Linked DNA regions of Homo sapiens: region 2 is linked to region 1. The links come from fine-mapping of genetic effects on gene expression. A gene starts in region 1. The other region holds a variant in brackets. All regions are shown on one strand. Distances are between the middles of the regions.

Region 1 (4,512 bases):
TTTCATGGTTTGTTGCTTTGTAGCAGGTCTTAAGGAAAAAAAAAAAGTTTTTCATGGTTTGGGACAGGTCCTTAGAGATGGGCCACACCAGCCCTGGCACACCTGAGCCCAGTGTTGGGCCACCTCACACCTCTCTCGCCTCTCTTCCAGCTTTATCTTTGTCCTGCTCTTTCTGGAGTCCTTTCCTTGCATCCTGCCAGCTGGCATCCCCTTCATCCTTGCACGCCTACCTTCTACACAAAGCCTTCCATGACCATCCCAAGCCTCAGGGCTGATTCCGTGCAGTGGGCAGGCTGTAGCCTCTCTGTTCACCTCTCTGTGTCACATCTTACTGGGTACATGCCCAGTAAATTCCCCACAACTGAGATTCTGCTTTGCCTGAGCAGTGCCCTCTGGCTCCTTAGGGATGATGCTTGCTGAGGGGTTTCCTGGCTTTAAGGTCATGGTTCAGGCTGGGCTCAGTGGCTCACACCTGTAATCCCAGCACTTTGGGAGGCCGAGGTGGGCAGATCACTTGAGGCCAGGAGTTTGAGACTAGCCTGGCCAACATGGTGAAACCCCGTTTCTACTATAGCCGGGTGTGGTGGCAGGTGCCTGTAATTCCAGCTGCTTGGGAGGCTGAGGCATGAGAATCGCTTGAGCCTGGAAGGTGGAGGCTTCAGTGAGCCGAGAGCATGCCACTGCACTCCAGCCTAAGCGACAGAGCCAGATTCGTCCCCCTACCCCCCAAAAAGGGGTCATGGTTCAGACCTCCATTGTAGGCCCACCCCCTTGCTTTACTAGCTGAGGGACCTTGCCTAAATTCTTTAGCCTCTAGGAGCCTAAATTTCCTTATCTGCAAAATGGAGATTAATAAAACTTACCTTGCAGGACCTTTGTGAAAAAAACAAAAACAAACAAAAAAACTTGAGAAGTCATTCAAAGCACTTAGTTCGTGATCAATAAATATTAGCTTATTGTTTTTCTAAGACGATGAGTAGGATTTTTCATCAAAAATAAATCATTCTGGTTGCCTTGGGCAAAATAATCTGCAATATAAAATATCTATAATAAATGGCTGCTGTGTATTCATTGCTACTGTGTGCCAGGCACCATGTTAAAACACTTTATAAAAATGATCTCATTGAGGCCTTTCCACAACTCTTTTTTTCTTTTTTTAGAGATGGAGTTTCGCTCTTGTTGCCCAGGCTGGAGTGCAATGGCATGACCTCCGCTCACTGCAACCTCTGCCTTCCTGGTTCAAGTGAATCTCCTGCCTCAGCCTCCTGAGTAGTTGGGACTACAGGCATGTGCCACCATGCCAGGCTAATTTTTTGTAGAGACAGTGTTTTACCATGTTTGCCAGGCTGGTCTCGAACTCCTGACCTCAGGTGATCCACCCACCTCGGCCTCCCAAAGTGCTCGGATTACAGACGTGAGCCACCGTGCCTGGCCCTTATCCACAACTCTTAAAGTAGGTGCTAATATTTGCAGTAAGTAGATGGAGATGGCTTATCTTTCGCTGAGTTAGCTTGGTCTGATTTGAGCTGGCAATACACTGCCTTCCAGGTCATTGTCCTGCCTGTGGGTCTTTGCACATCCAGACCACACTTCCTTCCTCTTTACCTAAATCTACCTCTTTCTCATCCTTGGAGAGAAGTATTTGCACCCTTCCTTTGCCCTCAGTCTTTCTTTTTTATTTTTTCATTTCATTTCATTTATTATTATTATTATTATTATTTTTTTTTTGAGACAGAATCTCACAGTCACCTAGGCTGGAGTGCAGTGGAATGATCATGGTTCACTGTAGCCTCAAACTCCTGGGCTCAAGCAATCCTCCCACCTCAGCTTCCCGAGAAGCTGGGACTACAGGTGTGCACCAACAAGCCCGGCTAATTTTTGTAGGTCTCGCTATGTTGCCCAGGCTGGTCTCCAACTCCTGGGCTCAAACGATCCTCCCGCCTTGGCCTCCCTAAGTGCTGGGACTGTAGGCATGAGCCACCGTGCCTGGCCATGCCCAATCTTTCTTACTGCAGTTGGTGATACATGGTTTTTGTTTTCTCTATACATGTATTTTTTGGTGGTGTGTTTAATATCTGTCTTTTCCCAGACTGTCGCCTCCGTGAAAGCAGGAACCTTGTCAGTTTTCTCTCCAAGTTATCCCTCCAACGCCTAGCACAGTGCCTGGCAAATGTAGGAGCTCAACAGGGTTTGCGGAATTATTATGTGTATGTCTGAAGGAAGGATGTTGGCAGTGCGCCCAACGTGTGAGGGGAACCCCACTCTCCAAGGTTCCAGTGGCTTTAAAGGTGTCCTCGAGAAAATCAGAGGAACAGGGGGATGCTTGTTTTCCTTCCTTCCTTCTCTCTCTCTCTCTCTCTCTCTCTCTCTCTCTCTCTCTCTCTCTCTCTCTCTCTCTCTTTTTTGCTTTAAAGTATGCTGAAAGGACACTTTAAACCAAGTCTGAATGGCTCGGCAGGACTGGGGCGCGGGTGCTGGCAGGAGCCGGAGAGGCGACATCTGGCCATGGGAGCATTTGTTTCAAAGTTCAAGGCCGTTCGCTCAGGGTCAAGGTTAGTCCGGCGGGCCGTTCGGAGACCAGCCCCAGCGTGCCAGGACCGTTTCCGGGGCCTGGCCGGGGCGTTGCCGCGGGGTCGGGGACCAGCACGAGTGCTGAGTCACGCCCCGCCCGGGAGCGCCTCGGGTCAGTAACTCGGGAAGACGACCAAGCGGGAGCGGGAGCGGGAGCGGGAGCCGGAGCGAGAGCGCGCGGGCGCGGCCGACAGGTGAGATCGCGCCGCCAGGCGGGCTCTCGAGACCCCGGGCGCCCCGGGCGGGACCGGGACCCGGAAGAGGGGCGAGCGGATTAGAGGCCTGGCTCACGCCGCGTCTGGCGTGGGGAGGTCGGTGCGCGCAGTTGTGGCGCTGCGAGGAGAGGGATACTCGACTCAGGCCCGCCCCTCTCTGTCTCCCCCAAAAAACGCAACAGGGAGATGTGCTCCTGGCCGAGGGCAAAGAAAACTCCACCCTCCTGGTTTGGCCCCTAAATCCCTGCTAAGTTTTCCTAAGGAAGATGGGCTTAGGCCGGGAAGGGCGAACCGGGGAAGAGGGAACACGGGGCGGGTGTAACCCGGATCTTGCGAGGACCGTCCGAGGGTCCGCTGGGTAGAAGCGGCCGGTCCGGACAGAAGCAGGTGTGAGAGGAAAGGGAGAAACCTCAGTCTCTAAGAGGAAAGAAACTGGAGTCAACCCAGTGCCCATAGGCTCGGGGGAGCTGGGGGGTGCAGCACTAGGAAGTCTGCTTCTCCCTTCCCGAAGCCCTGGGTGCTGCAGGGACAAAGACCAGCGGTGAGTAAACTAACTCTGATGGGACGCGTGCAGTCCACCTGGAACTGAATTAGTGGCCTATATTGGGGCTCTCCTTCCAACACCACCTGATCAACACACCCTACCTTTCCCTACAAGGAGAGTCTTTTTGACCCTGGAATTTAAGGTGAGGATGGGGAGTGGTGAGGTCTCTTGGGGGCTGATGATCCTGTAGGAGGACAGGCATAGGGCAGAGAGTCAGATATAGTTTGGGATGGGACTTGCAGGTTTCTGGACTGTGCACCTGTGTTCAAAAGCCTGTATCAGGTTCCAGTGTGCGTGCATGCACCTGCCAGAGAGCCCCGGGATCTCAGATCACACCTGCCCTCACCCCAGCACCTAGAGAGGAGTTCTCCAAGGAGCACAGTGTGTCACCAAGAAGAGGGCACTGAGCCCCAGCCAGGGTGGGCTGGGCAGGCTTAGCACTACCTAGCCCAGAAGTGATGGGCTGGGCAGGCCGGTGGACTCCAGGGCCAGCCTGACTTTTGTCTGGTGGCCAAATGAAGCCAGCGTCCAGGTACAGGTGGTGGGCAGACCATGGGGACCACAAAACTGGCTCTGAGGAGGATGGACAAATTGCTTGGCCTAGGTTTTCTGTGCGGGAGTGAATATGACATCCAGATGAACCTGTCTGCCCCAGAGCTGCCCTCCCCTGGGGATAAAAGGAGGCTGCCTCCCTTAGACTTTGAGTCCCTTTTCAGAAACTGGTCTTTTGGGGGTTCTGTTCTTCAAGTAGTCCCTGAGGGGCTGGCCATGGAGTGTCCCAGGAAGGGAGGCCGCCCAACCGTCTCCATCCTGCTGTGTCCCGCAGGTGGAGGAAACCTCCATGGTGCTGTGAGTCGTGCTGTAGTGGCCTTCTTATCCGGGACGGCCACTCTGGGAATGTGGCTCTCCAGAGGCTGATGTTGAAACCTACCCTTTGTGTGAGCCATGACGACTCAAAAAGCATCGTGTTTTATTTGTAATATTTGTGAAGCAATACTGGAGCAACTCTGGGATGACATTCTTGCTTTGATCAGAGCCCACACGGTTCCTGCTGTGTGTCTTCTGAGGCACAACCTCTGAACAGCTTTGGCATAAATGTAACTTCCTGGTTTTTCAGTAGTCCTATGGGCTGCTTATTGTGGAATAATACCCTTGAGATCAGGGTGGATGCTCTTGGCAGAG
Region 2 (4,000 bases), 20 kb after region 1:
CCAGGCCTACAAGCCGGGTAAGAGAGGCCCCATGTGCTTTGCAGTTTTAATAGAGTTTGGGGTTAAACATGGGGAAGCCTTTTTGGGCTATCCCATACCTGGCCACTAGAACAAACTCTCCAAGCTGGTGATGGAAACATCCCCTTAGAGCTCTTTAAAAATAGGCTGGGCGCGGTGGCTCACACCTGTAACCCCAGCACTTTGGGAGGCCGAGGCGGGCAGATCACCTGAGGTCGGGAGTTCGAGACCAGCCTGACCAACATGGAGAAACCCCGTCTCTACTAAAAATACAAAATTAGCCAGGTGTGGTGGTGCATGCCTGTAATCCCAGCTACTCGGGAGGTTGAGGCAGGAGAATGGCTTGAACCCAGGAGGTGGAGGTTGCAGCGAGCCAAGATCACACCATTGCACTCCAGCCTGGGCAACAAGAGCAAAACTCTGTCTCAAAAAAACAAACAAAAAAAAATCAGGGTCTCACCCACCTTCCTAAAGCGATTTCACATTTCCGGCCCTGAGTCTGAAGGCCTCGGGAAGGATCGGCACTCTGGGAGGTGCAGCCCCAGGCGGTTCAGTGAGGTTCTGGTTGTTTCTGTGTCTCTGCTTGCAGGTGCACTGACGTTCCTCCTGTCCATGGGGAGAAATGACGGTGTGGGCCAAATCAGTGGCTTCTATGTGGGCCGGCTCATGGTTCGGCTGACCAAGAGCCGGGACCTGTTCGTCTCTACGAGCTGGAAAACCATGAGGCAGTCTCCACCTTGATGGAGAGGCCAGGCGGGAGAACTACCGCAGCAGGTGGGCGTACGGACTGCTTGGCGCATGGCACCCGCCTGGCAAGTGCTAGAACTAATGCTATTCTTCTGGAATAAGATGCCAATGATGTGGTGGCTAGAAATGCAACTTGTATAAAACAAAAATGGGAGAGAGAGAGGTATTAAACAAATACCCCCCTTAGAGGATACTTTCTGGGTTTGGAAGGTGTGCTTGCTGTGGTACTGGGTGAGCGGCTCATGTGTGCTGGCTGCATGGTGCTGGGGAGGCCACAGCCAGCCCTTCCTCTGCACCTGCCTCCTCTGGGATGTGCATGTGTGTGTACGTGCTTGTGGTCATGACGCGTGCCATTTAGAGCTCTCAGAGCAGGGCAGATTGCTGGGCTCTGGTGGCCAGTGTCTGTCTGTGAGGGCAGGAAGGAGAGCTGCACATTGAGAACAAAGGAGGGACCTGAGGTGGAGAGAGGCCCAGCACCCCAAATCTCTGCCATCACACGGTCGGGGAGCCCATACATTCTGCAACAACCAGGGACTTCACAGGAGCCTTGTTTTCAATTTGCTAACAGGTGCATAATCCCTGTGCTCCTTAAGCCTCATGGCCTTCCTACATTTCCACTTTATTTGTTTGTTTGTTTATTTATTTTTGAGACAGTCTCGCCCTGTCACCCAGGCTGGAGTGCAGTGGCACGATCTCAGCTCACTGCAACCTACGCCTTCTGGGTTCACGTGATTCTCTTGCCTTAGCCTCCCAAGTAGCTGGGACTACAGGCACGTGCCACCATGCCTGGCTAATTTTTGTATTTTTTAAATAGAGACGGGGTTTCACTGTGTTGGCCAGGCTGGTCTCGAACACCTGACCTCAGGTGATCCATTCGTCTTGGCCTCTCGAAGTGCTGGGATTCCAGGCGTGAGCCACTGCGGCCAGCACATTTCCACTTTTAGATCCTACTCCATACCACAGGTTTCATTTAAGAAGAAAGAGCTAGATAAATGTGCTCTTCTGGTTACCCCACCCTGACAGAGTGCATTTTTACACGGCTAGCAGGGGTTGAGACTGCAGCCTGGCCTGCCAGCCATTGGAGGTGTTTAAGGAAGGGCAGATAATGTGACTCTTTGCGGGGTGCCATCTGCTTACCCATTAGCGAGCAGAGGGGGTTTCTGCGGGTGACCCCCAGCATATTTCTAGGTTACTTATGGGCAGATTTGTAAGTGACAAAACTCCAGCTGATGCTGGGAATGGGGAGAGGGCCCTTGAGGGACTTTGTGGTTTTGTGCTTCTGGTTTCCTGGCCAACCCCAGGGTCACTTGTCTGGAGGCCCAGCTGGGCACTAATGTCTGCCACCGACTATGTTACAGTGTATAAATGATTCCTCTATTTGGGAGAGATCTTCCAATCCAGAGGAGCCCCTCTTGGACTGCCTGGGTTAAATCTGCATAGCAGAAGTGGTTGATGAGTTCATCTGAAGAAATTCAGGCCCCACCTCCCCACCCTGCCCCTCCCTGCTCCCTTTTGATGGTGGC[C/T]TCTGGGTACTCGGGCAGAGTCCTTGGGACACCAGCCTCTCTGGGGTTCTCAGGCCATCCCGTTGGGGCTGTCGCCCAGGCCTAAGTGAGTCGTGTGCCTCTATTGGAGGATGGCTGTTCCCCTGGTGGTTGCATCCAAGTATCTGTCTTTCTTTATGGACCACGAAGGGAAGCCCACCTTCCTGGAGGCAGGACCTTCGGCCTAAGAAACACAGGCCCTGGTGCTATCTGACCTGGGGTCCAGCGAGGTGGGAATCCCAGTGTGTGAGCGACAGGCCTTCTTCTATTGACTTACAATATTCTAGAAGGACCTACGTGTGGGGACACAGTTTTCCAAACTGAGGAAAATGTTGCAATAAAAGAATATGTTGTAAGAAAGACACTGGATCTTTTATTTTTTTCCTTTCATTTTCTTTTTCTTAAAAAAACAAAATGAAACCAAAAAAAAGCCTGAATCAAAACCTTTTTAGGAGTAGTTACAGATATTATAGGGATGGGGGCGGGGGGCACTAAAACAAAAGAGAAAAGCACCAGTGAGATGTCTTTCCCATTTTCTTCTCTCCGCCACGGAACACGCACACCAACAGAGCCCAGGCCACTTTTTGCCCTCTTCCCTTGGAAAAAGGAGGAACAGAAGATTTAAGAATTTTGAAAGGATTTTTTTCTTGTGTGAATGTGTGTAAAAGTCAATGCTATAAATCTAAAACGAGGTCTGTTTTTTTAAAAAAGTTCTAAAACAACAGGAGGAAAACACATGGAAAGAAACCCCTCGCGGAGACCTGCTTCCTTACAGATGGAGGCTCTTTTGGAGGAGAGTGTGAAGGGCAGAGGGCTCCCTGCGCCGGCAGGACCTGCCCGGCCACCCTCCACTCCCCTGCCATCACCCCTCCTCTCTCCTTTTAAAAAGCAAAACCCCACTCTTGGGACTCGGGTCGTCCTCCGATCCCTGCTGGAAAGTGCGGCGGCTACTTGGCGTCGAGCTTGGCCATCTCCTGCACGTAGATGCCGATGCTCTCGCTGTCGAAGAGCAGGAAGTACACGTTCTTCAGCGAGGACGCGCTCGAGTCATCAAAGTGGGCTGAGATGGCTTTGAGGGTCACCTGGGCCGCAGTCTGTTTGGGAAAGCAGTTTCTGTGCCAAAGCAAAAGAAGAGCCGATGTCATTTTGGTCCCTGGGACCCATGGGAGCATGAAGTGCCTTTGTTTTTACTGGGTGGGGCCTTGCTGTGTGCAGGGCTAGTCCATGCATGATCTCCTTTGACCCTAGCCAAAGGGACAGCCTGGGGGTGGCAGGTGGGGCATGTTGCCCCCACTTTATAGGTGTCACACTGACTCGGAGAGGCACAATGATTTAATTTGATTAAATTAATTTATTTGTTTTGGGATGGAGTCTCTCTCTGTTGCCCAGGCTGGAGTGCAGTGGCGCGATCTCAGCTCACTGCAACCTCCACCTCCCGGGTTCAAGCGATTCTCCTGCCTCAGCATCCCAAGCAGCTGGGACTACAAGTGCGCACCATCATGCCTGGCTAATTTTTGTATTTTTAGTAGAGACGGGGTTTCACCATGTTGGCTAGGCTGGTCTTGAACTCCTGACCTCAGGTGATCCGCCTGCCTCGGCCTCCCAAAGTGCTGGGATTACAGGTGTGAGCCACCGTGCCCTGCCAAGCACAATGATTTTAGTCAAGGTCACAGGGCTGGCCAAGTGAAGAGTGC

Evidence for each region. PIP is the estimated chance that this variant, and not a neighbour inherited with it, causes the effect. A credible set is the group of variants that fine-mapping cannot tell apart.
Region 2: its variant is the best candidate, but not a certain one, in a credible set for the expression of AIFM2 in monocytes after interferon gamma (Fairfax 2014, PIP 0.54).

The regions. Positions count from the first base shown.
Region 1 is chr10:70,130,987-70,135,498 of GRCh38, reverse strand. AIFM2 (AIF family member 2) reads left to right here and starts at 2,674. Exons shown (of 9, transcript NM_032797.6): 1 at 2,674-2,765. RefSeq lists silencers at 2,500-2,819, 2,652-2,861 and an enhancer at 2,383-2,883.
Region 2 is chr10:70,110,937-70,114,936 of GRCh38, reverse strand. It overlaps MACROH2A2 (macroH2A.2 histone), which reads right to left. Exons shown (of 9, transcript NM_018649.3): 9 at 2,655-3,419. The coding sequence ends at 3,254. AIFM2 (AIF family member 2) reads left to right here. Exons shown (of 9, transcript NM_032797.6): 8 at 1-17; 9 at 608-2,666. The coding sequence ends at 759. Among named protein-coding and RNA genes, the nearest start is that of AIFM2, 20 kb to the left of the region's middle. The variant C/T (reference allele first, on the strand shown) is at 2,289.